2 linked regions of the Homo sapiens genome follow. The protein of the gene in region 2 purifies or fractionates together with the protein of the main gene of each other region. This does not show direct contact. Each region holds a gene or a part of one and is shown on either strand. Other genes may lie near its edges.

Evidence for each region.
Region 1: the proteins of GUCY1A1 (region 2) and CRABP2 purify together in Homo sapiens (affinity purification with mass spectrometry; one large-scale study listed by BioGRID and IntAct). This does not show direct contact.

Annotation. Positions count from the first base shown.
Region 1 is NC_000001.11:156,702,784-156,706,719, forward strand, and holds the start of CRABP2 (cellular retinoic acid-binding protein 2), read right to left. Parts: upstream 2,801-3,936; 5' UTR 2,664-2,800; coding exon 2,594-2,663; intron 1-2,593. UniProt on the Homo sapiens protein: Transports retinoic acid to the nucleus. Regulates the access of retinoic acid to the nuclear retinoic acid receptors.
Region 2 is NC_000004.12:155,669,601-155,673,622, forward strand, and holds part of GUCY1A1 (guanylate cyclase soluble subunit alpha-1), read left to right. Parts: intron 1-205; exon of another isoform or gene 206-292; intron 293-4,022.

The sequences.
Region 1 (3,936 bases), on a different chromosome or scaffold from region 2:
AAAAAAAAAAGCCAATTGGGATGGTATGTGTTTAGGACTTAGCACACACAGTGCCAGGCATATGCTTAAGTTTTCAGGAAACAATAGCTATGATTGTTGGTATTATTTTTACTGATAAAAGGAAGGCAAAGGGTCAGGTGCCATGGCTCATGCCTGTAATCCCAGCACTTTGGGAGGCCGAGGCAGCAGGACTGCTTAAGCCCAGAAGTTTGAGACTAGATTGGGCAACACAGTGAGACCCTACCACTAAAAAAAAAAAAAAAAAAAAAAAGGAAAGCAAAAAGCTGGGGCTCAAAGCTCTCTGCATTAGGCACCGTACTCATCTGCCCTTCTGGAAGACTCCCATACCCCTGTCCCCTCAAGGGAACCCCCTCTGCTGTGAGAAGAAGGAATAGAAAAGGAGACTGCCCTCCCCGCTCTGTGTGATGTATCCCCTTCTTCAGGACCCCCCACTCCCCTCACAGGGTCCGGCTATCTCATTCAGCCTCGTGGATTCAGACTCTCTGTGCACCTCCATATCCCAGCCCAGATTGGACCCCTTCTCTCTGCTCCCCAGTTATTAACCGAAGTGGGGGAGATAGGAGACAGCACCCCTCTGAAAGGAAGACGTGCAGAGCAGGGGGCCTCTCTGGATGGGCTCCAGGTCTAAGCTCCACACACCCACCTCACCTGGCCTGATCTGCCGCCCTGTCCTGGAGTAGAGCCAGGGATGCACTAGGCGGGGGTGAAAGGGCCCTCTGCCAGGTAGCAGGATTTCCCTGCCCCTGATCTGGCCAACTCCCTGGACCTCCTCCAGACCTGGGTTCCTAGAGAAACAAATCCTCTTTCCCCTCAGTGCCAAAGCATACCTACCCTACTGCAAACAGAAGAGAGAGGGAGAGAGGAAGCCTTGCCCCTGGGGAGCCCAGGACCCCCATTGTTGGCTGCTGAACTCTTGTGTCTAGGAAGAAATGACAGGTCCCCAAGTCTTATTGAGATGGACCCTTGACTAGAGCTAAGAGGGGTGTGCCAGGACCGAAGTTCCTGCAGAGGCAAGGCTGGGTTCAGAGGAGACATCCTTTCAGCGAGCCCCTGGTGCCTGTGGAGCTGAGGGCCCAGCTTAGCCGGCCTTAGCTGGCTCAGGACTGTGTTTGTCTAATGGATCTGTTTTTAATCTGCCCCCTGCAGGGCCTGAGGAGGGCACGTGGCTCAGAGAGACCCTGCAGGGAGGACAAACAGACTGAAGACAGACAGCAGGATTGGGGCCTTGAATCTTACTCTTCAGCTGGGGCCTGGGGGTGTACCAGACCACCACCTCATCCACTGAGGACAGGGGCCAGAATCCAGAGAAGATGAGGAGGGAGTGGCATCTAGGCTTTCCAAAGAGAAAATTTCTTTTTGTCTTTAAGTTTAGCAAGGACAGAGCAAGAAAGACTGATATGACTCCAAGAAGTATTGTGGTTAGATCGCAGGAAGAACTAACGGCAAGGACTGATGGAGATCCCTGCTCTCTCTGCAGCATTCCAGACCTGTCTTAGATCCAGACTCACTCCTATAGTCCAGGGAGAGGGGTGCCTTCCCTCCCTCCCCTCTCGCCCAACCCAGCCGAACTACCGTCTCTCTGTTGAGTGCAGGAATTGAAGGCAGCAGGCCTGCCCTTACGCTCCCAGTGGCTGGGGTCCTTAACTAACGTCCATCTCTCCCCCAGAGTCCTCTCCCAGTCACCAGGTCCTGGCACTCTCCCCTGCCCCAGATGTCTAGCCCAGTTGGCCCAGAGGGCACACAGAAGGTGGGCTGGAAAAGTGGGAAAGGCAGTCTGGATTGACTTAGTTTTCCCCACCTTTGACCAACACACCCAATTGGGCTGCAGCCGATCTATGGTCGGGGGAGGTAGGTGGGAACCTAGATTTTTGGAAATGTGGGATTGGGGTTTCACACGAAACCATTTGTTGAAATCCAAGAAAGTGATAATTATCCCTAGCGATTTTAGAACTCTGGAGCTGCTCGCTGTATGAAAATACTTGTCTCACAGATGGGGGGTGGGGAGAGCAGAGTGGAAAGTGCAGAGGGGGAGGAAAGTGGGGCTCAGGGGGCGCTGGGGCAGCAGATCACCTCGCAGGCAGAGCTGGGCGCCGAGGGGTAATGAGCCTGCCCTGGGGATTGGGTTACCGAGGGGGGCACCGGGAAGGAGATTGGAATGTCTCCGAGCGGCTGGGCAGGGTAGGGAACCGGGCTCCCAGTCTGGATGCAGGGTTCGTGGCTCCACCAGCCCGCAGCTTCTGAACTGCAGAGAGCCAGGTGCCTCGGCCCGCCGAGTCCGGCCGCTGAGGCCAGCCTCCCCTTCCCCCAGAGGCCAACCTCGCGCTTCTGGTTTCTACGTGATTCACAGGCCGTGAGTCACCGCAGTGTTGGCACCGGTGGGCCCCCGCAGGAGAAAGCGGGATTTAGGCGTCGTGCCCAGAGCCCCGGGACCCGGACGCCTGGCACGTTTTTCGGGGATGCAGGCACCCAGTGTCTCACGCCCTGATTGTGGTCCCGCTGTCTTTCTCATCCCCAACTTCGAGGACTCCAGAGCCCCCCCTTGCCCCACCTGGGCCCTCGAACATTTCCTTACCCAGCACTTTGAGCAATTCCTCGAAGTTTTCCGATCGGATGATTTTCCAGTTGCCAGAGAAGTTGGGCATGGTGGCGGCGCGGGAGGCGGTCCCCGTAGACTCCTAGGCTGGAGCACTGGACACTGTCTTTTAGTCAAAAGAGACGTCGCCGTCGCCGGGTCGTCAGGTTCTGGAACCAAGACAAGTCCAGGGACAACCCCAAAGCTGGCCTGGGCTCCCGCGCGGACAGCTTTTATACCCTGTACGGAACCGCCCCTGCCCAGGATTGAAGTGGCCCCGCCTCCCGCTCCGCCCCCCCCCACCTGGGGGGCCCTGCGCCCCCGCCACCAACCTCTGGATCTAGCCCGCGTGTGGGTCCAGGCTTCTCTGGGGACCGAGATAGCCTTCTCCTGCGCTAGTAAGTGGATGGGGAAGCGGACGCAAAGCCAGCACTTGAATCGCGCTCTCCGCAGAGGCGGGGGGAGCTAGCTGCGGGCGCAGATGCTCAGGGCTCGTGTATGGCTGTCCCCCACCCGAGTTCCTCACGTCTCGCCTGTTCCCCACCCATCCCCAACCTGACTCGGTGCATTCAACTCCTTGGTGCCGGACACCTGGCGACCCCACCCGCAGGCGGACCCCAGATCTTGAGCCGTAGCTGGCCCTAGCTCCATTGAACCCTGAACTGGATCCAGTGGGACCACTCCGTACTCAGAGAGGGGCTTGGGAGCTGCGGGGTTCCGGGGGTTAGGGATCTAAGTGAGGCAACGGCGCCCCCTGCTGGAACAACTCGGAGAGGCTGGGCGGGGGCGGCACGGTCCCCCCACCCCTCCACCCTGCTTCGGGCTCACGTAATGCCTGGGGACTCTGGAAGTAGTCGCCAGGCGACTCGCTCCCCTTAATGCGCTGGGCGGACATTGAAGGGTTAAGCAGGAGCCCAGGGCGCGAGGCTGGGAGGGCAGAGGTCACAGCCAATCACTTGACGCAAGGTCTTTATTAAAACGCTTTCTCTGTCGCTTCACTCCCGAGACCCCGAGGGGGTCTCAGTAGGGGGAAGGGAGGGAGGCGGGGACAGAGGCGCGGAGCCCTGGCGAGCTGCGCCACCACCTAGATAGGCGGGAGGATGGGTGCCGGGGGAGAAGGCGGAGCAGGGTCTCAGGTGTCACCATCCTGAGCTGTAAAACGGGCGGAAGGAGCGACCTCCCCTCCCTTGGAGAGCGGCTTTGAAACGGGAGATCAAAGAGGGTGGGAGGAGGGCACGGCTTCCTGCAGAGACCCGAGTGGGAGTGGGCGAGACCCCAGTGGAGATGGCAGGGAGACGGAGAAACAGAAACGGAGGTCAGGCGGGGAGCCTCGGGGACAGGCC
Region 2 (4,022 bases):
TGAAAAGCTATTTTAATATTTCACTACAAACAAGTGATAATATTAAAATTAAAGTATATCTATTACAAATACATCAGTAAAATATTTTGTGACCGAATTTTAAGAATTTTGTTATATTTTTCAAATGAAATTGAAAAAAATTAAATGTTTATCTAACATCACTTTTATTGACACATTGATATTGCATAACTTTGAATTTTTTCAGAAACTATACAAGGGAAATTAAATCCTGCATTTACATTTGCTAGCAACTAATGAGTGTGGACTGAGGATAATATTTCTTGCTTTACAGGTTAGTTTAAAATAACACGATCTGCACCCCCATAATTTCTAATTAACCTTTTTTCAGAACTAAATAAACATCAAATTAGCCATCAGAATGAATCTCTACAAGTAAGGGGAAATGGAAAGGTAAAGCAACATTTCAGTAATACAAGCCAAAAAGTATGTGCATTAATGGGAAAAATTTTTGGAGGAAGCTGTTACTGAGAATGACTTTTTCTGTCAGATTCACTAAGAAGTTGCTTGGCTTTTATTTGTGAGAATATTCCATTTTGAAGGCACTATTTTTACACTGGTTAATTAAAAATATTTACCCAAGCCACTTTTCTTAAACATTTCTATTTATTACTTTTCTGCACATTTGTAAAAACAAATTTTTTCCCCAAAGTATTAATAATTAAAAATATGTTTGTCTCTTGACCATCTACATTCATTCTGCAATAGTTTGTTTTGGGTGTCTACATCTTGACTTGATATAAGAAGAGCTTTTGTCAATGTTTAGTTACTAGTTGATTTACTTTGGGTGAAGTAATTTCCTGGCTATCCTGAATCATATCTGCTTCTTTTATTTTCTTTCAGAACATTTTGAAATGTCTTACCTATTATATATGTAATTTTTCTTCTTCCCTGGGTTCATGCCAATAGGCTTCATCTTCCTATAGCCTCGAAGGCTTACAGAGGATGAACAGAGTTATTTTGGAGGGGTGAAAGAAGAGCTGTAGAGTGGGCTTCCCTCTCAGCCCACAGTAGGAGAGAATGGCTACATCTTAAAACTTGAGGGACTCTGGAGCAGGCTCTTCCTTGCCACAAGAATGTGCCTCACAGCCTGTAGTTTCTAACTTCTGGTATGCTTTCTGGCCATTAAACAATATTTCATTAAAACAAATCCTCCATTTTAAAAATTGAGGCCAAGTCAAATTAATTAACTCACATACCAAGTCATCTATCTCACCATACTAAGAATTAGCAGGAAGTCGACACGAGACAATGGCTTTGAGAGTGAACACCTTCTTAGGGGGGAAGCAAATGGGGCAGACCCATTTCTTAATCCTGACCTTTTTTTCTAGGTCCAGCCTATCTATTTATCCCCTTTTGCTATGTCACATGACATTGAAAGTACCTGTTTAAATGTCTGCATCTCCCATTAAACTCAAATCTCCTTCACGGTATCCAATGTTGGATCCATAGTGCTTGGTGCATAGTAGGTGTCTAAAGAGCTTAACATTGTTGTCATTGTTATTCTTGAATTAAGGCTTGTTTATGCTTTGATGCTACCACATGGAGCTATGGTCTTGGTGACAGAGACCCTTGTGTGCTCTTCCGTCATATAGTTTGTGGCCTCTTCAGAATTGCTTGTAAACTGTTATTTATTTCACCAACAATTTTAACTCTGCTCCAACCCTTAAATCTCTTGCCACTAGACCTACCAGAACCTGCCTTCCCAATGTCAGCTTCACTTTTAATGTTTGCTTTACCTTCCTTGCTGTTGATTTAGCTGGACAAAGAGAGACATAACTGTATCTTGTAGCCAACTACCAATTGCTTCACTCCAATGTCAGCTTGGAGGATACTTTGTGCAGCTATTTTATTCTTTTTTAGTTAATGTCATATCAAATTCTCCATGGTACATATTCTGGATTTTTCCAGGTTTTCTAGTCTGCCCAGATTATCTCCAGACTCTTCATTCTTAGCAGAGGACCATACTTTTTAATTCACAGAGGATGTTAAGGTCAGTTTGGGCAAATTATTTGTCAACACTCATCTTGAATACAGTAAGCATTTCTTTGACCAGCTGTGAGCATAAGAACTCTTTTCTTATATTCAGCTATCGAATTTGTCTCTATAATATTTATATCTTTAATTTTTTACCTCTTAGAGTATTTATAGAAAATGCTTTTACATCTAACAACTCTTAATAGTGTCTAAGATAATATTCAGTTTCTTCAACCCATGCTTATTTACCATGGGTTGAGAGTCTCATTGTTACCAGGGCTTTTCTCTTTTGGATGCACTTCTGTTTTTATTAAAGTGTGATCCCCAGAGTTTAACATAGAGGACTGTCCTCTGATATATTTATCTTCTCTGGATATCATGTAGTAAATCAACCTGAAATCTATTCTACTCTTCCCCCCTCCGTTTTTTTTTTGCACTCATACAACACTGTTTAATTATGTATCTTTTTTGCACATTCTTCTGCAAATACACTTATTTTCCCCATCGAATTTTATGTTTGGCCACTTGATTTGGGACTTTTACAAATACTTACTGCAATTAAATTTAATCATTACCTTTAGTTAGCCTGTTGTTCCAGAAAGTCAAGGTCATCTTGGATTCTGAGTCCTTGATACAGAATAGCCATTTTCACCAATTTAGAGGAATTAACAGATTTGATCAGGATATAATTAACATCTTCATCCAAGTAACTATCTACAATGCTGAACTGGAACTACCTTTGGCATATTCCTAGACACCGTCCTTTACGTTAGACTCCTGCTTTACATTAGTCCATAAATTATTCCTCTTTATAAGGCTGTTCAACCAGTTATATAGTCAAATAACTCTCTTTGAAGTTGACATTCCTTTGTGTGACTTAAGAGAGTATACTGAGACAGACTTGGTCAAATTCCTCCCTGAAATGAGTCTCCACTTTCTGCAGAATAGATGTCAAGTAACTGCTATTAAAAACAAAAGGAGATAACTAGGTTAGTTGACAAGGATAGGTTCCTGTGACCTCTCCTTATCTTGTAGATAACAGCACTTCACATTTTGAATGCTTGCATGCCATGTTTTTAATCATCTCTTTGGAATAGTACCTGCAATTAATGTCCAGCTCTCTAAATTATAGCTGATGGAATCCACCTTCCCAATTTTGAAAATTGAGGCAATGGTTGGACTCTGTCAACACTTCTCTTCATCACAATATTTTTAAAGATGACTTTAACAATTCCTTTATTTTATCCACACATGCTTTCAATATTTTGTAGTGTAATTTCTCCAAATTAATGGATTTAAACTCATTTAGAATATTTGCTATCATTCTACATGCTGGACCTTTGTTATTTTTAGTTTTGTTCTACTTTTATAAGTATGGATATTGTTTTCTTAAGGAATGGATATGAAACAAAACAAGAGCAGAGTAGTTCTGCCTGTTTGTTCATGTACTGTGATTTGAATATCTTTATCCAGTGTGCTCTTCCTATATCTAATAAAAATGCCATTATCACCACTTTATCTGGCAATCATAGCAAGAATTAAAAGGACATTTTTTCTTTTTTTTATAAGCTTCAACTTATTTTATGTCTTATATTTTATAACACTCTTCTTAGAGACTCAGCCACTATTTTGTACTTCTCTCAATAAAGTTTATTATGGATTATGCTTGTCACTGAGGAAGATACAAAGCAAAGTTTATGACACACACTCCTTGACTTGAAGGAATTTAAAGTCTGCATGAACAAAACCAAGAAATAGTCTCAGAATTATACATGTCAGCACTTAACAATGAGCATAATATTTGTAGAATAGTTTTAATAAGTTTTAAAGAAGTTAGGAGAAGGAAGAGAGTTCGGTATGATGGAAATATTGAGTAAGGCTTTCCAGAGGAAATCTAAGACTTAGCTGAGGTTTTAAAACAAGATCAGGATGTTGGACATCACAGGACCTGTAGGATTTAAATGTGGCAAACAGTAGGAAGAGTATTCTAGACAGAGGAAAGGAAAGGATTCACTGCAGGGATCAGA